Linked DNA regions of Homo sapiens. The protein of the gene in region 6 purifies or fractionates together with the protein of the main gene of each other region. This does not show direct contact. Each region holds a gene or a part of one and is shown on either strand. Other genes may lie near its edges.

Region 1 (3,500 bases), on a different chromosome or scaffold from region 6:
GTCACAGTATAAATGAGAATATGACTTCAAATATCCAGCTGTCTAGGAGGCATAAAGACTATTTGTCTTTTGGTTTAACCACTCAGCTTTGGGAATTGCTGATCTTACATGTACTCTACCGGAACCAGTGACACATACCCCCTCTGCCCTTCATGGACACCCTGTTAGGTGACTTAGTTATAAAGAAATATACCACCATTCACTAAAACAAATTTGGGTACACAAAGAATCTAGCTGTGTGTGTGGAGGAAGAGGCTTTTCCACCACAAGCCAGGTAGCCTGCTCGAGCTGCTGTGAGATGTCATTTAATCTTATGGTTTCTCTATGAAAAAAACTTCTGAAAATGTATCTCCAAGACCGTATCTCTCATTTTATATGTTTTTGATTTTTCACAGTTACTTGAAAATTACCAATGAATTAAAATAAATTAAGAAGTTAATAAATGCCTATAACATATATAATACTGGGAGTAATAAATGAAATCCAAAACATGGTTGCATCCTTTAAGAATGAGATTCCAACAAAAACGTCAGACATTCAAACAAAAACTCTAAATTACTTGAGATACCTGAGAAATTGATCATTTCCCACTTAGCTCACTTAGCATTATAATTACCCACTTCCCCTTAATTAGCCTGTTAAGTCCTACAAATGTCGTAGTATTTTTTACATTGCCACAGTGCCTGTCCTTGTGCCTAGAAACTAGCATATGCTCAGTGAATGTCTGCTAACTGAATGGATAATGAAAATTCATGGAGTCTTGACAATTTCCTGTCAGCCTGAATTCAGAGACGCACCTAAGTAGCAAAATTTCCACCTTACTTTATATTTAATTTATCCCTATTTAAAATGCTAATCAATGGGTAAAAGATAATGTTAGGGAAGAGCAAAGGTTCTCCTGGTTAACCCCTAAGATGAAAACAATCTTTCTGGATTTAGGTAACTAAAGTACACTACAGTTAAAAACCGAAAGGCTCAGAGCTGCCAGGCATAACAGGGCGCACTCACCTACTGAGTGTACAGCTCCAGAGACACTGAGGAGTTTATGGAAAATGACAGCATCCCACTACACCACAGAAAACATACCCAATCCATTCTACTGAAACAGGTACAGTCATGTGTCGCTCAGCAACAGGGATACATTCTGAGAAATGTGTTGCTAGCCAATTTTGTCACTGTGTTAACATCATAGAGGGTACTTACACAAACCTAGATGGTATAACCACACACCCAGACTATATGGTATAACCTATTGCTCCTAGGCTACAAAACCTGTACAGCACGTTACCATACTGAATACTGCAGGCAAACTGTGACACAATGGTAAGTGTATCTAAACATGTCTAAACACAGAAAAGGACACTAGGAGACCAGGTGACAGGAATTTTTCAGGTCCATTAGAATCTTATGGGACCACCATCGTATATGTGGTCTATTGTTGACTGAAGGTCATTAAGTGACAGATGATTGTTTCACCAATACCCAAACAGTAAAACAGCCAAAGTCTTTTGGAGTTTTCTGCAATATTCATTTTATTCCATGTAAAAGAATGATTTTGGCTTAGAAGTAAAATTATAAGACACTGTTTTGTTAAGAGTGAGTTACCTGGATTCCAAGAAAACTGTTCCATGTTTCTTAGACACACTATCAGTAAAAGCACATAATTTGTGAATCGTTCCTTAATATCTAAAAGAAAAAAAATCAACATAAGTACTGTAGTGTATATAAACAACATAATAAAGTACATATATAATTATTTTAGCCAGAACATGATGAAATTATTAGACGATGTATAAATGTCTATAAATATACAACTTTATATATATATATATGTGTGTGTGTGTGTGTGTGTGTGTATATATAGGCTGGTGCTACCATGGTAAGCCATTGACTTCTTTTGCCAACATAATTCTAGTATGGAAATTCCAGTTTTCTATAAACTTCAAAAAGTATTCAAACCATCAAACTGCTCAGATGAGGTCATTAGGTTCCTCCAATGGGCTTTGGGGACATATGACAACTGTTTCCATTTTACGGAAGAAAAAATAGAAGCAAAGAGTAAAATGAAAGACTTTGGGTAACAAAATCCTTGTATAAAATCCCAGACTATTTCCAATCTGGTAAATAGTACACAATTACTGAACTGATGAGTCCTTTAGCTGAGAGAATCCTGCTACTACAATAGCATTTCCGGGGGTGTATGTAGAACTTGAGGTAAAATAACCCCAAATTGGGCTTCATAATATTTACCATAAACTAATAACTGTGTGCTGAGATTAGGTGGAAGGAATTTAATAAAAGCAAATCACTGAATTCTTGCTAAAGGCCAGTGTACACATTTCACTTTTTAAGCTGTTAACTTTCTCATAGTCTAAGATACCGTGTAACCAAGAAATGGGACAAAATAAATTTGTCTGCAGTTAAGAGTGGCACACCCATGTATGTGTGCCGATGCAATAGTGGGGGCTGTGACTAGAAACAATCACTCATATAACAACCCATCTCAAAAGCTTTTTTACAGTCTGCTGTCATTTCCCTACTTTCCCACTGCCTCAGTAAATGCAAGCCTCACCCATATCATTCAGCCATGGCGCACCTCCTGTAAGCGCTCTGAATTTCAATTTCATCCTGATGTACTTCATGGGACTGTCTTTGCTTCTCTTTTTTTACTTCCACCTTTCCCCATTATTCTCTAGCAACATGATACAAACTTTTATTCCACAGCAAAACCTTATTCTCTGTAAGCGAGTTGGCCTTTATTCTCTGTACCTTCCCTACATCCTTAAGCTCTTCCAGTCAGTTGCTGGTACCTTCTTTTTCAGGGTAGCTCACCTCCTTATTAGTGATGGGTCTGAGCTGTGCCTTCACTCCCTCAAAGCCCAGTGGGCACTACTCACTTCCTATTTCCAAAGCTGAAGCACTATTTATTATGAGTGTGAGCTCAGGGCACAGTGAGTCTCAAGGTACCAAGCACTGAGATGCCTCTTTAGGAGGCAGGGCACCTCCGGAGCAAGGCCATGTGGATTTTCAGGTGCACCTGTTTTGATTTGTCTAGATCACATGTTTAATTTATTCTGTGACTTCAAAAGAGGATACAGGTTAAAGGAAACTAAGAAAAGTCTGCCCTAGAATAAGTTCCATCAAAGTCTGACACAAAATATATTCTTTGTTACTACAGCTAACTGTGGATCTTAATTCATGGGGTTAAATTTACCAATGTATCTTTAATTGGAATTCTGTAGAATTATTCACCAAGCTGTACCTATATGTGTGCTAAGTCCTTTCTAATTTCCATAAATGAATTTAACAATGAAATGTATTTATTTTTGATACTTCCCAAACATGTATAATATAGACTTGCTTCATTACAGAATTATCTGAAAATAAATGGCCTTGAGAAATTTAAAACACTATCTGAAATGAGCCAAAGTAACTTTTGTAAACTCTAACAAAGCAAAACTACCATCGAATTTAAATTAATTGTATTTGATTTTTGGACA
Region 2 (3,500 bases), on a different chromosome or scaffold from region 6:
GTGGTGCATTTTAAATGAAACAAGTTCCATTAAGTGCTTATTGCTGAAGGTATAATTCAGTGAATGTTCTTTCCTTTTCTTAGAGCAGAGTTTGGTATTTTATTTTCACCTAAGCCATTTTGGTTCAGTTCTTAAGGCTTTGATTATTTTTTTAAGTTGAATGGTGTTTAGTGTGCCCATGTTCATAACAGCATATTATTCACAACAGCCATACAGGCTGGGTGTGGTAGCTCATGTCTATAATCCCAGCACTTTGGGAAGCCAATGTGGGCAGATTGAGTCCAGGAGTGTAAGGGCAATATGGTGAAACCCTGTCTATACAAAAAATTAGCCGGGCTTGGTGGTGGGCACCTGTAGTCCCAATTACTGGGAAGGCTGAGATGGGAGAATCACCTGAGCCCAGGAGGTCAAAGCTGCAGTGTGCCTTCATTGTGCCACTGCACTTTAGCCTGGACGACAGAGTGAGACCCTGTGTCAAACAAAAAAAAAAAAAAAAAGATAGATTCTAAGAGGCCAAGGCAGGCAAATGGGCAGATTGCTTGAGCCCAGGAATTGGAGACTAGCCTGGACAACATAGCTACTAAAAATACAAAAAATGAGCTAAGCATGGTGGTACATGCTACTCCCGAGGCTGAGGTGGGAAGATCACTTGAGCTTGGGGAGGTCAAGGCTGCAGTGAGCCGTGATCATGCCACTGCACTCCAGCCTAGGTGACCCTGTCTCCAAAAAAGAAAAATGTGGTATATACATAGAATAGAATATTATTCTGCCTTTAAAAAGGAAATTCTGACAGATGGTAAGACATGGATGAACTCTGAGTACATTATGCTAAATAGGCCATCTATAAAAAAAAATGGTGTGATTCTACTAATGTGAGGTACTTAGAATAGTCAGATTCATGTGAGGTACTTAGAATAGTCAGATTCATACAGAAAAAAAGTAGAATGGAAGACGGCTGGGATGGGGTGTAGTTATTGCTAAATGGGCAGAGAGTTTCAGTTTTGCAAGATGAAAAGAGTCCTCTGAAGATAGATGTTGGTACACAGAGCACCGTGGCTCACGCCTGTAGTCTCAACACTTTGGGAGGCTGAGGCAGGAGGATTGTTTGAGCCCAGGAGTTCAAGACCACTCTAGGTAATATAGGGAGACCTCATCTCTACAAAAAATTTAGCCCGGTATGGTGGTGCATGATTGTAGTCCTACCTACTTAGGAGGTTGTTGTGGGAGGATCACTTGAGCTCAGAAGGTCGAGGCTGCAGTGAGCCTTTACCAAACCACTGCACTCCAGCCTGGGCGACAGAGCAAGACCCTGTCTCAGAAGAAAAAATAAAGGAAAAGTAGATGTTGGTAATAGCACAGCCGTGTGAATGTACTTAATGCCTCTGAAATGTACACTTAAAAATGGTTAAGGTGGTAAAATTTATGTTACATGTATTGTACCATAATTCTTAAAAGAATAAAGTTTTTTTAAAATTTTAAGACAGCTGCTGACAGTCCTCAACAATGGCATTTAGTAGTCATGTTAGTATGTAGGTAAGGCTGTTCCTATAGAACAGGAGCCACCAACTCCTGCTGGCCAGCTGCCTGTTTATTTGCTGTGAGAAGGCTAAGAATGTGTTTTACGTTTTTTAGTTACGTTTTAAATGGTTATATAAGTACCTACATAACAATAGCCTTTGACCCTCAAAGCCCAAAATGTTTACTATCTGGCCCTTTTAAAAAAGATACATGTTAATCTGTGCTTTAAAGTCATTGTCATTTGAATGCATTAGTTCTGCCACTAATCAACCCTATATCCCACAAACAAGGCACTTAAATATTCTGGGCCTCATTTTCTCATGTATAGAAGAGGTGGTGCTTGCCTATCGCTTTGGAAGAACTACATAAGGATCCCAAAATACAGGAGGTAAAACTGAAACACAAGTCATATTTGCTTTGCTTTATAGAGATTGACCATTGGCCTTATTTGGTTACTCTGTTCAAAGCAAGTACCTTTGCTTATCAACTTCCTGTGCTTAGTTGTGTAGAGTTGTTTGAGTAAAGAAACCCTAGAGACCCTTAAACTTGCAAACACATCAACCAATTGGGAAACCCTGGAATTAACGGAAACAGTTACAATTAGAACATGGCTGGTATGTGGTAAAAGGCCACCCTTGAGTAAAGATGCTATGTGATAAGTACAAACACCAATGTTTAGTGTCTTGTTGGAGTTGATTTTTTTTCTCTCTGGCTTTTAAGAAGTAACTTCATCGATTTGAACTAAGTTTTTGATTCATTTGGCAAGAAAATAGAAAGCTTTTGGGGGAGTAAATTATTTAATATGTTACTGGTGTCCCAAATATCTTTTTTTTTTTTTTTTTTTGAGACAGAGTCTTGCTGTATCGCCGAGGCTAGAGTGCAGTGATGCAATCTTTGCTCACTGCAACCTCCACCCACCAGGTTCAAGCAATTCTTTTGCTTCAGCCTCCCACATAGCTGGGATTACAGGTGCCTGCCACCACACCTGGCTAATTTGTGTATATTTAATAGAGATGGGGTTTCACCATGTTGGCCAGGCTGGTCTTGAACTCCTGACCTCAAGTGATTTGCCCACCTTGGCCTTCCAAAGTGCTGGGATTACAGGCCGTGAGCCACCATGCCAGGCCTTTTTAAAATTTTTTTTTATTTTTTGAGACCAGGTCTGGCTTTGTTGCCCAGGCTGAAGTACAGTGGCACGATCTTGGCTCACTGCAACCTCCACCTCCTAGGCTCAAGCAATCCTCTCACCTCATCCTCCCAAATATCTGGGACTACAGATGCATGCCACCATGCCTAGCTAATTCTTTACATTTTTTTGTACAGATGGGTATCGGGGAACCTGCCCCGATAGTCGCGTACATTCTTTTCTATTTTCCTTAAGCGTCAGCCAGCTTGAGAAATAAAGGGACAGGGTACAAAAGAGAGAAATTTTAAAGCTGGGCATCCGGGGGAGACATCACATGTCGGTAGGTTCCATGATGCCCCACAAGCCGCAAAAACCAGCAAGTTTTTATTAGGGATTTTCAAAAGAGGAGGGAGTGTGCGAATAGGTGTGGGTCAGAGACATCAAGTACTTCACAAGGTAATAGAATATCACAAGGCAAATGGAGGCAGGGCGAGATCATAGGACTACAGGACCAGGGCGAAATTAAAATTGCTAATGAAGTTTCGGGCACCATTGTCATTGATAACATCTTATCAGGAGACAAGGTTTTGAGAGCAACCGGTCTGACCAAAATTTATTAGGCAGGAATTTCCTCTTCCTAATAAGCCTGGGAGCGCTATGGGAGACTGGGGTGTATTTCACCCCTACAGTCTACAGACCATAAAAGATGGCCACACCCAGGGGGGCCATCTATAGACCTATACCCCCAGGCGCGTATTCTCTTTCCCAGGGATGTTCCTTGCTGAGAAAAAGAATTCAGCGATATTTCTCCCATTTGCTTTTGAAGGAAGAACAGTATGGCTCTGTTCCACCTGGC
Region 3 (3,500 bases), on a different chromosome or scaffold from region 6:
TACAAAGGGATACATGGGAACTTTTGGGGGTAATGGAAATATTCTGATTGTGGTGGTGGTTTTAAGACTGTGTATGTTTGTCAAAACTCATCAAACTGCACACCCAAAAGACTGAGTTTTACTGTATAAATTATACCTCAATACACCTGACATATTAAAAAAATTTCAGTCATCAGATAACTATTTTAACTGAATAGCCTATTTTCCCCCAATGACCTCTGAACATTTTATGGGCCTCCTGCTCCCCAAAGGGTACCCTGCTTCTGCTGACTTAATGTCTCAGAACTTTGGTGTCACTGGTCTCAGACACCACTCTGCCATCCACTATCCAGCGGGTGGTGGTCTTTTGGATAGTTTGCATGGAGTTGCTGCTGTCCAGGGCATCATCAAGACTGAAGTTCTTGCCATCTTCAAGCAGGCGGTGGCAGGTGGCGCTCTCAGCCTCCAGCTTGACCTTGATGTTCAGCATGGTCTCGTACTCCTGGGCCTGGTGCTGCCCCTCTGCCTGGGTCTGTGCCAGCTCTGACTCCAGGTGCAGCAGGATTCTGTTGAGCTGCTCTACCTGCAGGGCATAGCAGGTCTCCACCTCCCTCAGGCTGTTCTCCAGAAGCTGGCCTTCAGATTTCTTATCAAGTCCAGATGGATCTCCAAGGACTGGACCGTATGTCTCAGCTCCGTGAGTGTCATCTCAGCAGCTCCGACCTGCGCGGACTGAGTGGTGACCACTGTGGTGCTCTCCTCAATCTGCTGAGACCAGTACTTGTCTAGCTCCTCTTGGTTCTTCTGAGCTAGCTCGTCGTATTGGGCCTGTATGTCTGCCATGATCTTGGCGAGGTCCTGAGATTTGGGAGCATCTACCTTCACGGTCAACCCAGAGCTGGTGAGCTGGGCTTGTAGGCCTTTTACTTCCTCTTCGTGGTTCTCCTTCATTAAGAGCAGCTCCTCCCTGAGAGCCTCGATGTCTGTCTCTAGCTACAGCCAAGTGACACTGGTGTCATCAATGACCTTGCAGAGCCCACGGATGTCGTTCTCTACAGACTGGCACATGGCCAGCTCTGTCTCACACTTGACTCTAAAGCCATCAGCAGCAAGGTAGGCATTGTCAATCTGCAGAACAATGCAGGCATTGTCCACAGTATTTGCAAAGATCTGAGCCCTCAGATCCTCGATGGTCTTGAAGTAATGGCCCCAGTCTCTGACCTGGGGTCCCTTCTTCTCCAGGTGCTCCCGGGTGTTGCTCTCCAGTCTCTGGTTCTTGGTCTCTAGGCTCCTCACTCTGTCCAGGTAGGAGGCCAGGTGGTTGTTCAGGCTTTGGAGGGTCTCCTTGTTCTGGATGCCTCCCATTCCTGCCAGACCCTGGGCCATCCACTTGGCCAGGCCCCTGGACCCCAAGCCGCCGCGGAAGCTGGTGGAACAGGACACGGAGATCCGCGAACCAGAGCCCCTGGCGCCTGCATAGACGCTGGCTGCACTGCTGACCAGTCAGGCACCATAGCTGGGTGGCTGGACAGAGCCCAGGAACCAGTAGTTGGTGGAGAAGGTGGAGCAAGTGGTGAAGCTCATGCTGTCCAGGGAGGAGAGCGAGAGGACAGGACTCAGGCTTTGCTGACCCTGAATAGCATTTTTTATGTGCTGTAACGTATTTCTCATTATTTAACTTATCTGATTATATATAATACTTAAATTGGCAAAAAAAAAATTAAAACTGCAATAAATCCAAAGATTAAAACAAGAAAGTATTTAGATATTTCACTTCTTGCAATACTCCAGTATCTTACTCCAATTATACTGCCTAAGGAATCAGAACAAAAAACCCTTCCTGTACTTCACGATCCTCATTAACAGCTTAAAAAGGAACTTTAAATTTTTCTTTATCTTTATAAAGTTATGTATGTATTGTTAGGGATATATGTAAATAAAATATTCCTACCCCCAAAGCAAGAAGCCCTCAAGGACACAGCTCTACCTAAGAAAATTATATTTTGAAATTAAGAGAAATGTACTTGCCATTCACTAATCTTAGATTTAAAAACATACCTTTAAGAAATACCACATGGCTCAATTCTAACTAAACAACAAATATATATTGAATACCTAAAACAGGAGCAGCACTGTGATGATGTTATAGACATACAGATGAAGATAATACAAAATCTCTTTGCTTTCACAGAGCTGATGGTTGAGTATGGCTGACGAATATAGGAACAAATTATTTTATCAAGAGATACAAGTAAAAAACTGTACAAATGCTATGAAATGGAATGATCAGGGAAACTTTTGTAAAGGCAATGCTTTCTCTTTCTCCTCAGAAAAAATTTCTGGTCCTTGAGCTGACATTTTGAAAAGTAATATATGTCTATAGAAGTGGGAACAATACACAAATATATATTTTCATGGTTAATGTCAATGCTTTTCTACCAGCAATCTATTTTGAACTTAGGAAGATCTCAGAATTTGAGGCCTCTGAAACTGCTCTGGGTTTCATCAGGGAAAGTAACACATTACAAGATCAACCACATTAACAACAAATACCTATATTAGCCACAGTATGTAAAAATTTGCTTTGGGGGAGATGAAATGGACATTGATAGTGAAAGGAAGAGATACATAAAAAAAGGGAAAGAGAAAATAGTAAAAAGATTAGTAGAGTTAAATAAAAGCGTATGTCATGTGTGTCTTTCAGGATAACTTGAAGGTAACGTTATGGAATAAACACTAGTTTCCAAATTCTTTTCTTAAAGGGGAAAGAATCAGTAGTTTTCAGGTCATGACATTTCAGCTTTCAATCTTAGAGCTTTCTGAGGTATACGCAGAACCCTAGGAAGAAATTTTTTCATGTGCATCAATTTTAAAGAATAGTATTAATAAAAAATAAATAAATAATAAATGGAGTTATGCCCAACTTAAAACCATGTAAAACTTCAACTTGGTCATTACCAAAAAAAAAAACTGAATTACATAGAGCATACACTCAGACGATCGATGTCTTTGGCTCAAAACTGGCAACCCACAATCTGATTCAAATAAAGACAACTAAAGGCAGGTTTTAAAATACTGAAAGGGTTGACAAGTAGCAGTGTTGAGAAAACTCTGTAATGTATTTCCTCACCAGGATTAAAGGACATTTTTGCTTTACAAATACCAAATTAAATATCATAAATATCAATCATAAAGACTAATATTTTAAAAGTATAGTCAGAATTTAATAATTAGTGTTTTAGACATTTGTTAGTTTTAATGTATCTAGAATAGTATTTTTTCAATAGTGCTCATATAAAAATAACTGTGCATTTCACCTGCATAAGTGACCCAAATATGTTAATTCTAACAAAAGGAAATCCAGCATTTTAAAATTATGTCACAGCTTCTGCATTTCTCAGGAGAGGCAAAAGTATATATATAATTATTTTAATAAATTAATATTGCTAATTTCTGAAAAAGTTTTTCTTTTCTGTCAAAGGAGAAATATGTACAAAAGAGAACTCAAAGGAAATTGGTAT
Region 4 (2,186 bases), about 16 Mb from region 6:
AGCCTACAAAGACAGAATTCTGGTGGGGTCCTACTCCTTATGTAATTTCAGGGGTTCAACTCCTAGGAAGTCTTTGCCACTGTCTACCTCAGTCCTTTCTGTGGCAGTATGTATAAGCCATATTAGGTTCTGTAGAGATAGAACATACCAGGTCAAAGACAGGTCTTCTGAGTCTTCCACTTTCCCTAGTTCCTTAACTGCTCTATATGTGACATATGTCCCCATCTTCCTGCCAGATGGGCCACCCTTTGCTGAAATATAGCGTGTAAAATACGAGCGGTCCTTGCATCCACTACACGGTCTCTTGGACCACCACTGCTACCTGCTTTCTTCCTTAGTTAGGGTTTTATATCTACTTAGGACTTTTTCCCTTTTCCAAAGCACACTTTGAAACATTCTATGAGGTAGACAACAGGAATTATTATCCTGTGTACAGATGGAGCTCTTCCCATCACAGCAGCCCACCTGGATCTCTACAACCACAGGACTTCTGAGATCAGAGTCTGGCTAGGGGCATCAACGAGAGCCATGTCCAAGATGGGGGCGGGGGATGTGGGGAGATGCTACCTGGATATCCCGGTTTAGCAGCTTCTTGGTGAGATGCTTCAGAGACATGGTGGCATTCTCCGGGCAGTCAGCCTTCCGGTTGAGGGGGGGGATATGGGAGGTGTCACGGGTGAGGGACTTGGGGTGAAAGTACTGAAGGGCTTTGAAGTCGTTGTGGATGGCATGCCCCACCACTATCTTCCCTGTGAGTATCTTCAAGATCTGGAAGAAGTGTGGGAAGAGAGTGGTGAGAAGGAAGACTGAAGTGGAACCCCTGCATTCTGAAAGCCCAACATGACCATCAATCCCTTCTGGATTCTTTCACCAACTGCCTACCTCTCCATCCTTGAAATGCTCACTCCCACAAGTTTTCTTTCTTCTGGAATCCACCTTCCTCTTCCACAGGTGATTTCCATGGTATACCCTGTTTGGACTCATACTGCCAGTGGCTCCTTACCTTCTTATTGATCTCCACCCCATGACATTAATTTGCCTTCAGTCCTAAATGACACTCATGTTTGAGATGTCCATGTATTTAGTTCAGTTCTGGCTTGCTACATGAAGTCCTTTAACTATTACCATTATGTTGGCCTTAGACACATGGCTGGGACCCGGGCTCCAGGGAGGCTAACAAAAGCCCAAAATTACATGCAATTAGATGTGTATGGGTACTAGAGGAAGAGAATCTGTGGCTTTCATCAAATTCTCAGAGTCTACAAACCGTAAAAAATTAAGAATCACATATAAACTAAAGTTGCAGAAGCAACCTTATTCACACTAGTTTTGGAACCAAGTAAAATAAAAATAACTTCTCAATATTTCAGGAAACTGTTTTTTTTTTTTGAGATGGAGTCTTGCTCTGTTGCCCAGGCTGGAGTGTACTGGCGCGATCTTGGCTCACTACAACCTCCGCCTCCCGGGTTCAAGCGTTTCTCCTGCCTCAGCCTCCCAAGTAGCTGGGACTACTGGCACCTGCCACCATGCCTGGCTAAGTTTTGTATTTTTAGTAGAGACGGAGTTTCACCATATGGGCCAGGCTGGTCTTGAACTCCTGATCTTGTGATCTGCCCGCTTCAGGCTCCCAAAGTGCTGGGATTACAGGTGTGAGCCACCACACCTGGCCTTCAGGTAACTTATTTTTTAAAAGAGATGAGGTCTTGCTATTTTTCCCAGGTTGGCTGGCCTCAAACTCCTGGGCTCAAGCAATGCTCTCACCTCAAACTCCTGAGTAGCTGGGATTACAGACACATGTCACCACACCTAGCCATTTCAGGCTCTTGAAGTAGGAGGACATGCTACCAATGAGGACAACCGAAGAACACACCACAGGCTCTGAAGGCCATTCCCAAATGAGGTTCCAAACAGGTTTTCAACAAAAGTGACAGTCCTGCATAGCCTCCCAAAGGGACCCCCTCTGAAGGGGCTAGGCTCATCTGGACATACCTTAGTCTCATAACCCCAGCTTGGCACTGGGGAAGTGCTTTATGATGAAAACCAGACGTAGTCCCGTGAACTAGATATTTCGTTACTCCTGACTTCACCTACTTACTGTCCACCACCACCTTCACTTCTTATTAACCTCGACATATAGCCCTCATCAAAGCTGGGCAGATTTGCTGTCTCAGACCCGTCCCATCTTC
Region 5 (4,090 bases), on a different chromosome or scaffold from region 6:
AATATGCAGTGTTTGGTTTTCTGTTCCTGTGTTAGTCTGCTGAGGATGATGGTTTCCAGCTTCATCCATGTCCCTGCAAAAGACACGAACTCATCTTTTTTATGGCTGCATAGTATTCCATGGTGTATATGTGCCACATTTTCTTTATCCAGTCTATCATTGATGGGCATTTGAGTTGGTTCCAAGTCTTTGCTATTGTAAATGGTGCTGCAATAAACATACGTGTGCATGTGTCTTCATAGTGCTCCTCAATTCTTAAAAAACAACTGGGGGATAAAACCTCACAGAGGTGTTATAAGAATTACGTGTGGAAAGCAACCGTTTATGTACATGTGCGTATTAATAAGTACCTGACACAGAAAGCATTCAAGGAAAGACTTATTTACAGGTAACTAATGAGAGGATTAGCCTTTTGATAACAGAAGAGCTGGTAGGCAAAGAGGAGGAATTAAAAAAAAAAATTACAAAATCTTTTAGGAGAGAAGAATGTAGCCAGGAAAGCAAGAGGTAAAACTCTCTCTTCACACTAACTACCCACCTAGGCACCAAAGTTACCCTCAAGAAAAGTAAACAGTTTTGCTTTGATTTGTGTAATTCAAGCTGGAAATAAGACACCCAAGGATGGATGCTCACCTCTAGAAGCAGGAAGACAAGCAACCATTATGCAGGGAGCAAAAGAAGAGGTAGTGGAAAAAAAGATTCTTGCAAACAGAACATCCAAAAATTAAGGTCTGTAACCAAGAAGAAGCTGTTGATTTCAGGGAATGGGAAGGAAACATTTTCAAACCACCATTTGGCAGACTCAATGCTGGGCTCTCATTTGCATTATCTCTTGAAATCCACAATGATCCTGCCACATAAAATCCCCATGTATAGACAAGGAAATTGAGTCAAGGAGGTGAGGTCAATATCTGAAGTTACAAGATATTTTTCTTGAAAAACATCAAATTTTAGTAAGCCTTCTACTGTCGCTTTTCAGCAAAGTTCTGTACTACATTCTGTAACATTACCTATCTGTAACTATCAATAAAAATTTCCCCTTTGTCTTCAATTAGAAATAGAAACGAAAATGCAAAAAGAGAAACAGTACAGAAAAAGTTCCTGGCAATAAGAAGTTAGAATCTAGGGTAAAAATCTAAAAGGAAAATGAGTAACATTTCCCTTTCAAGTGCAGAGCTTTCCTGGAGAATCCCAGGCAGTGTCTGAGCTACCAGAAAAGTAACCCACTTGTCCCCAATCACAGATGGAAGGCTAAAATGTTTGTCCACGGCCATCTAATGCAAAACCGCCTGTTTCTATCTGTAGATTCTGCACGAAATGCTTTTGGCTGAGACGTGCAAGCAAAACAAGTGCAGACCAACAGGTTATCTGCCAAGCGGTTAGGAGAATGAGTTACAAAACCTGACAAGCAACATCAGCTCTTCCGTACAATTCTATGAAGCACTTCCTGCCACGGGTCCCGCTATTTAAAACAAATTAGGCTGCTCGCTCCCCACAAATCCCATCTAGCACCTCTCGGTTCCTCAGTCTAGCTAATAAACCATGCACTGGATTCTTCCGAAAGAGACCCCCCGCCCCCGACCCCGCCACCTCCGCCACTTTGCATAACTGGCCAAATGCATTCTCCAAATTTGCAATCAAGGAGCTTAATTCACAATTGTGGATGGGGCGGGGGGAACCGCCAAGTGCAAGAACACGGAACGGTTGCAAGACGCAGTTCAGCAAGAACAACTCTTGCTCTAGGCATTGCTCCGTCGACCCGAGGTGGTGGGGTGGGAGAGTCTTACCGGCGTGGAAACAGTAAAAAGGCACTTTTCCTTACAACTCGCAAGACAACACACACTCTAGCTCCCCCGGCGCAGAGCACAACCGCCCCCCCGCCGCGCGCCTCCCTCGCAGCCAACCGCTCCCGCCTCTCCAGGGATCAGGCTCCCAGAAAGGGCCGCCCCGGTCGCCCCCGAGTCCCCGCCCTCTCGCTTTCCCACCAGCCTCATCCCTCCCTGAGTACCAAGGGCTGCCGTTGTCTGGTTTCAATAAAAACTGAAGCGGTCCCGAGCTAGCAGGCTTCCCTCCGAGGGGCGGACGGAAGGTCCGCAGGGTTAACGGAAGCGGAGAGAACAGGACAAAAAGGAAAGGCCGGAGAGTCCCCCCAGCGGCGCCCGGTGCCCGCAGACCCTCGCACAGGCTCTTCGAACTCACCCGGGTTTCGCCGACTCCAAAGAAAGCGCGCTCCCTCCGAGAGCGCTCCCCCGGCTCTCCCGCCGCGCGCTCCGGCCCGCAGGGCGGGAGGACCCAGGCGGACAGATCCATCCCTCCGCGTCTGGTGTGGGCACGGTGTCGTGCCCCGCGGCGCCTGTCAGCGCGCACAGGTGGGACCGCAGCACAGAGAACGCTCCCGAGCGCCCTGCCTCAGCCTCGGCGTGGGGCGAGCCGCCCGCGCCCGCACCCGCACCCCTTTCCCCGCGCCCGAGGAGCCGGGCTGTACCCCGGAGCCGGCGGAGCTGGAGGCCGCGGGCGGAGCGCGGGTTGCCCCGGCAGCTCTTTCTCGGCACCAGGTCCGAGACCTAACGGCAGTTCTCTCTGACCGCTTCCCGGCCGCGCGCTCGCGCGGGTGTCATGGCCGAGCGGCGGCCCCCGACGAAGTTTCCCGGAGCTGACGGCTTTACCTTTTAGCCCAAGGGGCGGCAGCAGCTTTGAGCAGCAGCAAGGCGGCGGCGGCGGAGGGAGCGCGGGTGGCAGCCGGCGCAGAGGCGGATGTAGAAGGAGACACCGGTGGCTAGGACCCGCGCGATGGGAAGAGGAAGGCGCCGGCTATCTACAATCAGAACGTGGGCTGACCGTGACGTCACAATGGCGCGGCCAGCCAATCGGGACCCGAAGGATGAATCAAGCGCTATGATGTCATGCGGCCCGGGAGCCAATCGCGGGACAATAGAACTTTCGTGATCGTAAATTCCAGAATCCGATGCGGTGGAGAGCCTAGGCCGGGGTTGGCCCCTCGGTTCCACGTGTCTCTGGGAAATTTTTTTCCCCTTTCTTCCTAATAAGCCTGCGTGGAACGCAGAGCCTGCGCAATAGCCCCGGTGAAGTTGTCGATGCCCTGAACTCTGGTTTTTTTACTGCCAGGCGTGGCAGGAGTCTGTGGCCGCATTTGGGTGGCAGAAGCCCACCCTCGTTACGGTCTCCTCTATGAGTTATGTCATGCTGAAGGGGATCCACTTCATCGTTAAAGCTGAAAGGGTTAAATGCCCACGGAGACCGCCGGAGTGAAGGTCTGCAGTTGAACAAGATAAAGGAACAAGAACAAAACGACTCAAAACTGTTGTAACCATAACTCCCTTGCAAAGGATTTACCGTGTATTTTTCTTAGGGATTCTGATTTTTCTTTGGAAGCCACTATCAACTCCATTTCTACTCTAGAAATTATTCTAAAGGATTGTTAAATGAGGAAAGATGGAATCAGTGTCTTTTCAGCTAAGCATATTTAAGCACTTAAGACAAAGGGGGTTCAGGGCATAAACGGAAGATCCTTGCTGTTTTTCACTGATATTTGGATAATTAAAGACCTTCATTAGCTTTGTATCCTACTGTTTCCCCATTCAAACCCCAGAGATTTAGCCTTTCTTCGTGTGCCCCTCTTGCTGTATTCTTACTCCTCTATGTGCATCCACCTAACAGTCGGCTATTTAATGTAGGCAAATTTATTCTTTTTTTTCTTTTTTTTTCTTTTTTGAGACAGAGTCTCGCTCTGTTGCCCAGGCTGGAGTGCAGTGGCGCGATCTCAGCTCACTGCAACCTCCACCTTCCGGGTTCAAGCGATTCTCCTGCCTCAGCCTCCCAAGTAGCTGGAATTACAGGCACGCGCCACCACACCCGACTAATTTTTGTATTTTTAGTAGAGATGAGGTTTCGCCATGTTGGCCAGGCTGGTCTCGAACTCCTGACCTCAGGTAATCCGCTCGCCTCAGCTTGCCAAAGTGCTGGGATTACAGACGTGAGTCACCGAGCCTGGCCGGCAAATTTATTCTTTTACATATTTACAATGTAATGCTTATCACGTGCCAGCTGTGTTCCAGGCAGTGGGCCATTG
Region 6 (3,092 bases):
CTGTTTTTTTATTAAAAAAAAAAATGAGGATAACATCATCTTCAGGTTGTGGTGAGGATTAGAGGAACGGTGCATGCTCTGTGCTTGGCATGCATTCGGTAATAAATAATGACAATCATCCAAGGATCAACAAATTTTTTTTGTGAAGGGTCAGACAGTAAATATTTTAGGCTTTGCAGGTCACACATTTTCTCTCTTGCATGCTGTTCTGTTTTATCACTCTTTAAAAATGAGAAAACCTATCTGGCTCATGGCCCATATGGCCTGTGGGTCACAGCTTGCTGACCCCTGTTAATATTTATTTACAACATTATCATGATAGAAAATAAACATTCAGTTAAGGACTACTTAAAGGTAATTACCTTAAACCTTTCAACCTCTTTTCTTCATTTATTATCACAAAACATAGCAATAAACTTAAAAAGAAATAAACAATTACCTTCTTTTCTGGAGAAAACTTGAGGGGTTCTACAATGTACAAATCATTTGGGTCTACTGTAAGTAAAAAAAAAAAAAAGCAGATGTAAAATGTAAAGTGGATTTGGTGGATTTGCTATAATTAAACACTAAAATAAGACAAATCATTCATTCCTTATTATCCTCTAGTAATAGAACCAATGAATTTGTATCAGGTTAACTATATATTTATGCATTTTAAATTAGTAAGCAAAAAGAGGCAAGGTGGAAGATGATATGATTCCTATGCTTGACTGGTCGTCTTCAAATAACTATACTTCCTTAAGTTGTTAACTAGTAGCTGGTTATCAACCAATACAATAACGATCTTTCTTTGGGCCCAGCCTCACTCTTTTACCTGATAAGAAAAGAAACATTCCTGGGTAAGCTCACACCAAACCTACAGATCATTTGAATACTTCCCTAAAAGACTAGCCTCTAAACTGTGTCACAAAGGTAGATTAACAATGTGCAACAAGTAGTCGTGACCGTGTTTGGAAGCCAGTTAGAGAAATAAACACAAAAAGAGATCCAAGATATTTTTCTCTGTTTATTACTATGATCAAAACTATGAAATCCCAATCTAAAAACAGCTTGAACATGCAATATATATCACTAAGCAATAATGAATGAACACTTCTGGCATAGTGAGTAAATTAGATTTATTAGTTTTAGCCCAAAGTTTCTAAGGTTTCATTACTCTAAGCAGCTTCAAGATATATCCCAACCCCACCCCCACACTGACAAAATAGACACACATTTTTAAAAGGCTATGAGACTTTAGTCCTATTCAATCCACTAAAAATAAACAATTTAAGGTCTGACAGAGACAAAAGCTTACACATAGTAAATTCACTACAGAAGCTCTACACATTTGGGAAATTTATTAATACAATTCAACCAATTATAATTTTTTACATTATATTTCAGAGATTTATTGAGAAAGTCATCAAATATATGAAAATATCAAAACATCCCTCTAAACAGTCATTTCTACCAGATTACTAATCTTAATTTACTTTCTTTAATAATGATGTCTATTTCTAGAAACAGTTATGTTATTCAGATCAACCTCTACAATGAAAGCAACTAAGTAATGATAGTTTGTTTTTTTTAAAAAAAATCACTAAAAGCATTGAAAAGCTGCCAAGAAAGTAATCCCTAGGCTAAAACTGAAAGAAAAGTGGGAACCCGGACAGTCAAGTAGAAGACAAAAGTCATTTTTGCCCTGAAAACATTTGCCAACACAAGAATATATGAACTTTGGTTCTGATGGTATCATAAGGGAATGGATCAGAAATCAGGTCCTAGGGCCCACCCAAAGTTTAGTGTAATAAGATACCATCTCCCTGTGTACAGTAAACTGAGACTCCAAAGGACTATATTCTCAGGTAAAGAATGAAGCCATGCATGAACTTGCAGTCCAAATTATCATCACCTGGTGGCCCAACAAACCACAAGTCATGAATGTAAGGTATTACATGAATGTAACACACACACAAATTCCCTCTCAAATAAGAACCTATATTCTAGGCCTCAAATTATCCCTACAAATAACTTTTCAAAGAGAAAAAGTAGCACACAAAGACACAACATACCCTGAGTAAGAGCTTACAAAGACAATGAACAGACTCACAAAAATTTAAGATATTAGATTTATCAAACACAAACTATAAAGATAATTATGCTTAATATGTCTAGAAAATAAGCTTGAAAATATCTGCAGGAAACATATAACAAGGAAAATACAGACCTGGATTTTTAAAAAATACAAAAAGAACTCCTGGAAATGGAAAAAATAACTGAAATTGAAAACCCAATGAATAAATTTGCAACAGTAAGACTGCTGGCCTGGAAACACATCAGAAGATATCATCCAAAATACAGCATAAAAAGTCAAAAAGGTGGAATGTTTACAAGACAGGGAAGATATACGGAGAAGTAATATGTTTAATTAAATATGAGAATCTAAAAGAGACTGGGGCACAGGGAATATCTGGGAGGAAAAAATAATGGTTGAGAATTTCTCAATAACAAGTAAAAGAAACCTACAAATCCAGAGCTCCAAAGAGCCTCACGAATCTCAAAATGATAAAGAAAAAGAAGAGGAGAATATTTCAGTTTTAACTAATGACAAATGAAAGCTCTGAAGAATAAAAACATTAGTAAACGTGGGGTAAATTTAAATGAACATTAAGTGTAAAAAGAAATACCTTGTTGAGTTAAAATTAAGCAGAAAGAATAGAATTAAAATATACAAGAACAGTAACATAAATAAGGCTTGGGACAAATAAGAGTTTTAAGATCTATGTATTGTTAAGGAGAAGATACAAGTATTGATGAACTTGAGACTTTGGCAAACATTAATACTTCTGACTTCTAGGGTAACTAGTAAAAGAACAGAACCAGTACACAACTTCCAACATAATGGCAGTAAAAGGGAATATTTACTTCCTCCCCAATAAAAAATCTTAATGAAAGCATGGAAGGGGAAAAAAAAAAAAAATTAAAAGGGATACCCCTGCCCATCTAATTTTTATAAACCTTACATACCAAAATCCAACATGAGAAAATATTACATGCCAATCTTATTCATATAGATGCAAAATTTCTAAATAATTATCTAACAAAATTAT
Region 7 (3,500 bases), on a different chromosome or scaffold from region 6:
TCTTCAGGGAACAGGATACCCAGCTGTTCAATTTCTACAAGATTTGTGTGTTTTTACTTGTAATTCTAACATGTTGACAATTAACTAGATTTTTAAAACTCTAATCGCCTCCTTCCCAAGAGGGAAACTGATCTGATAAACATTCTTTCCTGTTTAATATTATAGTTGGAATAATCTTTGTACAGCTTAAACTTCTTATAGAAGACGACTTATTTTTTTCTAATCACAGGTAGGTCTCAGGGATGTTGGAGGAAATGATGATGATATGTCAAGATTCCAGAAGCCCTAGAAGCTAATTTGGGTCCAGTGTTAATTATTTTCCAGTTCTGCTTCATGCCATCAGAGTGGAAAAGAGGAATGTGACTATTCATGTATTCTAAATATACTGTGCAAAAATTAGCTTTCCTGATATTGTATGTGCATCTGTTCCACAATATGGTCCACACCCTGCCTGGCATTTCAGAGGTAAAGCAACTGCACTAACTTCAGAGCTCCAAGTGAGGGTCTTAGGAGTTCCACGGGCCTCTCTGTGTAGCACTTACCTCGGAGTGCCACTGTGCCATCGTCAGACAGTATGTTGGGGTCCAGGAACACTCTGGCCTCACCCTCTAAGGAATCCTGTACATATAATACTCGCTGGTTCTGCAAACCTGTATTGTAAAAATAAAAATACCTGGGGAACAGAGATGGTCTTTATTCAGCTGTGGAGTTTTCTATTTGTGGAGTAAAACCAAACACACACAAGCAAAAACCAAAACAAAACCAAAGACCTAAAAAGGTACCACTGTAATCTGGCCATCGCAGGGACGTGGGGACATGGGTGAAAGGTTCCATCATTTCTCTCTACCTAGAGCTTGTTAACAGAATTGCTTCCATATTCAAATCCTGTATTGTAATCCTGCACATTAGCCGAGTAGAGGCAAATAAAGACCATTTTATGTGTTAAAATAAAAATTGATATTCAAATAAAGCAGTAACTTTTTCTTTTAAATGAAGAAGAAAGCAGACTTTTCTAAAATAAAATTCTGGTTCTTTTCCCTAGCAAGGCTGCTAGGGTGGAAGGTCAGTACACTTTCTCTGTAAAGGGCAAGACTGCAAATATTTCAAGCTCTGTGAGCCATACAGTCTGTCACTATAATACTCAGGCCTGTAGCTGCAGCACAAAAGCAGCTATGGACAATACGTAAACCGATAAGCATGGCTGTGTCCCAATCAGACCTTATTTATAAAAATAGGTAGGCAGCCAGGGTTTGGTAGGCAGACTGTACGTTGCCGATCTCTGTAAGAATGGCAGAGGGCTGAAGAAAGTCTAAAGTAAATGTGTGATAGTGGCTCCAAAGAGATTTAATAAAAGATCAAGAAAACATCTGTAAGTGGGTGTTAACGGGACAGGAACAAGAGAAGTGAATTCACCCATTTCACCATTCTTTGACAGAAGAAAAACACAGAATTAAATGTTTCCAAGTAGTATACATCAAAGATAATTAACTTCGGAGGCAAACAAACCTCCACTGCTGTCTATGAATCATCCTATCTCACCAATTACTACCGATAAGACGACGATTTCCTATAATCTAGATTTCTTTATATGACCTATCCCTACTAAATTTCTTAACTATTATTTTAACAATTTGGACAATACCTAATAGATCAAAAATATTACTCTCATATTCAGGCATAGAAATTAATTCCTTATAATGAATTAATCTTATACAAGGACAAGTTATCTGGAATTTGTATTTTACAATTTAAGAAAGCATTTACTTTGAAAATAAAAAGGAAATTCAGTAAAAGCAGTCTCACCGTTTTCCTTTCTTGAAGTGGCAACTATACTTGGGATAATCATATAGTTCAGTCATTCTCTCTTTGTATAAACCTCTGATGGGACACTGCTCAAGAAATGGCACAGTAATCTTATTCTGGGCCTCCACAAAGGCCTGTGGAGAAATTAAAATGGACAAAGCAAGTTAAATATAAAATTTTCCATGTGAAATATTATCCACTAATATGTATCAGAAAAAGCACACTTTGTCTCTTAGCCAGTGCCTCTTCTCTCTCATTACCAGCCTCTCTCACCTCCTTACTCTTCTTCATACCTGCCCAGCTCCTGCCAAGTGACTGATTAATATGTAGTAACAACCAATGCTTACATGGTACTAACTCAGCTAATGCTTACAGGGCAAGTATTAACTTATTTAGAACTCACAATAATCCTATGGAGAAGGTCCTTTTATTAGGCCAACTTTACAGATTGGGAAACTGAGGTTTGGAGTGGTTAAAAAGTTGCCCGACATCATACAGCTAGGAAGTGGCAGATGGCAGAGTTGGCTCCCAGATCCACGCTCCTAACAAACACACTATACTGTAGCTCAGATCACACACTGCCAATAATCTGCATTTACGCAGTGCCATGGTTCCGGGATTCTTATTCAGCACCTGGCCATCCCAAGAGAAGTCAGAGTCAAAGAGAGAAAGTTAGGGATACCCAGGCGCTATTTTATCGATTTTGGCTTTGTAAGACCTACTACCATGTTAATTTCAATCAGAGAACTTTGCTAAAATTTGCAACCAAAGAACATTGAAAAAACATTGGAGGCCAGGTGCAGTGACTCATGCCTGTAATCCCAGAACTTTGGAAGGCTGAGGCGGGTGGATCACTTGAGGCCAGAAGATCGAGACCACCCTGGCCAGCATGGCGAAACCCTGTCTCTACTAAAAATACAAAAATTTGTCAGGCGTGGTGGTGGGTGCCTGTAATTCCAGCTACTCAGGGTGGCTGAGGCACAAAAATCGCTTGAATCCGGGAGGCAGAGGTTGCAGTGAGCCAAGATCGTGCCACTGCACTCCAGCCTGGGCGACACAGGGAGACTGTCTTAAAACACACACAAAAACAAAAAACACCTGAAACAAGTGGCATTGCAGAAGAATATCAGCAACATGGTTTATAAGAAAGGCAAGAGATGGCCATCAGGAAATACTGGTAGTGAAGGCAGGAAAAGGGGCTTTTACAAAAGATGAGTTGTATCCAAGCACACCCTATTTGTAACTAACCAGTTAAAAAGTTGACAATACCATAAAAACTTGGCTACTAGTAATTCACATCTGGCTATTAGCAAGAAATGAAACAAGAACATTGTATCAGCTTTAAATTCAATAGAAGATTTCATCAGATGTCTATAAATAAGTAAATCATCAGGGAAAAACTTCAGGAAATTAAGACCATAATATACTTTGAATGGCAGGGAAAAATGCATTATTATCAGAGTTCACTTTTGGATATATCATCAAACTCTAAGGGCCCATCCAAGCTCACAATGGTCTTCAAATGTGCAACAATGCTTTGGGTTCCCCTACAAAAACCACCAATCCCACTCTGCAGAACCATGATTTTGTGGTGAGACAAACTGTTCCAAAGCTCATTGATTACAATGCATTTAAAAACAAGAGACAAGGGATGTAAAGTATGAATACAGTAATTAACATTTTTGCAAGAGGACCAG

What was found.
Region 1: the proteins of SUCO (region 6) and TAPT1 purify together in Homo sapiens (affinity purification with mass spectrometry; one large-scale study listed by BioGRID and IntAct). This does not show direct contact.
Region 2: the proteins of SUCO (region 6) and TIMM23 purify together in Homo sapiens (affinity purification with mass spectrometry; one large-scale study listed by BioGRID and IntAct). This does not show direct contact.
Region 3: the proteins of SUCO (region 6) and NIPBL purify together in Homo sapiens (affinity purification with mass spectrometry; one large-scale study listed by BioGRID and IntAct). This does not show direct contact.
Region 4: the proteins of SUCO (region 6) and ISG20L2 purify together in Homo sapiens (affinity purification with mass spectrometry; one large-scale study listed by BioGRID and IntAct). This does not show direct contact.
Region 5: the proteins of SUCO (region 6) and ELOVL5 purify together in Homo sapiens (affinity purification with mass spectrometry; one large-scale study listed by BioGRID and IntAct). This does not show direct contact.
Region 7: the proteins of SUCO (region 6) and PREP purify together in Homo sapiens (affinity purification with mass spectrometry; one large-scale study listed by BioGRID and IntAct). This does not show direct contact.

The regions. Positions count from the first base shown.
Region 1 is NC_000004.12:16,177,972-16,181,471, forward strand, and holds part of TAPT1 (transmembrane anterior posterior transformation protein 1 homolog), read right to left. Parts: intron 1,687-3,500; coding exon 1,606-1,686; intron 1,599-1,605; exon of another isoform or gene 1,009-1,598; intron 1-1,008. UniProt on the Homo sapiens protein: Plays a role in primary cilia formation. May act as a downstream effector of HOXC8 possibly by transducing or transmitting extracellular information required for axial skeletal patterning during development. May be involved in cartilage and bone development.
Region 2 is NC_000010.11:45,996,489-45,999,988, forward strand, and holds part of TIMM23 (mitochondrial import inner membrane translocase subunit Tim23), read left to right. Parts: intron 1-3,500. UniProt on the Homo sapiens protein: Essential component of the TIM23 complex, a complex that mediates the translocation of transit peptide-containing proteins across the mitochondrial inner membrane.
Region 3 is NC_000005.10:36,883,269-36,886,768, reverse strand, and holds part of NIPBL (nipped-B-like protein), read right to left. Parts: intron 1-3,500. UniProt on the Homo sapiens protein: Plays an important role in the loading of the cohesin complex on to DNA. Forms a heterodimeric complex (also known as cohesin loading complex) with MAU2/SCC4 which mediates the loading of the cohesin complex onto chromatin.
Region 4 is NC_000001.11:156,723,581-156,725,766, forward strand, and holds part of ISG20L2 (interferon-stimulated 20 kDa exonuclease-like 2), read right to left. Parts: exon of another isoform or gene 985-2,186; coding exon of another isoform or gene 883-984; intron 769-882; coding exon 568-768; intron 1-567. UniProt on the Homo sapiens protein: 3'-> 5'-exoribonuclease involved in ribosome biogenesis in the processing of the 12S pre-rRNA. Displays a strong specificity for a 3'-end containing a free hydroxyl group.
Region 5 is NC_000006.12:53,346,151-53,350,240, forward strand, and holds the start of ELOVL5 (very long chain fatty acid elongase 5), read right to left. Parts: upstream 2,801-4,090; 5' UTR 2,667-2,800; exon of another isoform or gene 2,200-2,666; intron 1-2,199. UniProt on the Homo sapiens protein: Catalyzes the first and rate-limiting reaction of the four reactions that constitute the long-chain fatty acids elongation cycle.
Region 6 is NC_000001.11:172,606,150-172,609,241, reverse strand, and holds part of SUCO (SUN domain-containing ossification factor isoform 1 precursor), read right to left. Parts: intron 496-3,092; coding exon 440-495; intron 1-439. UniProt on the Homo sapiens protein: Required for bone modeling during late embryogenesis. Regulates type I collagen synthesis in osteoblasts during their postnatal maturation.
Region 7 is NC_000006.12:105,375,583-105,379,082, forward strand, and holds part of PREP (prolyl endopeptidase), read right to left. Parts: intron 1,938-3,500; coding exon 1,804-1,937; intron 674-1,803; coding exon 543-673; intron 1-542. UniProt on the Homo sapiens protein: Cleaves peptide bonds on the C-terminal side of prolyl residues within peptides that are up to approximately 30 amino acids long.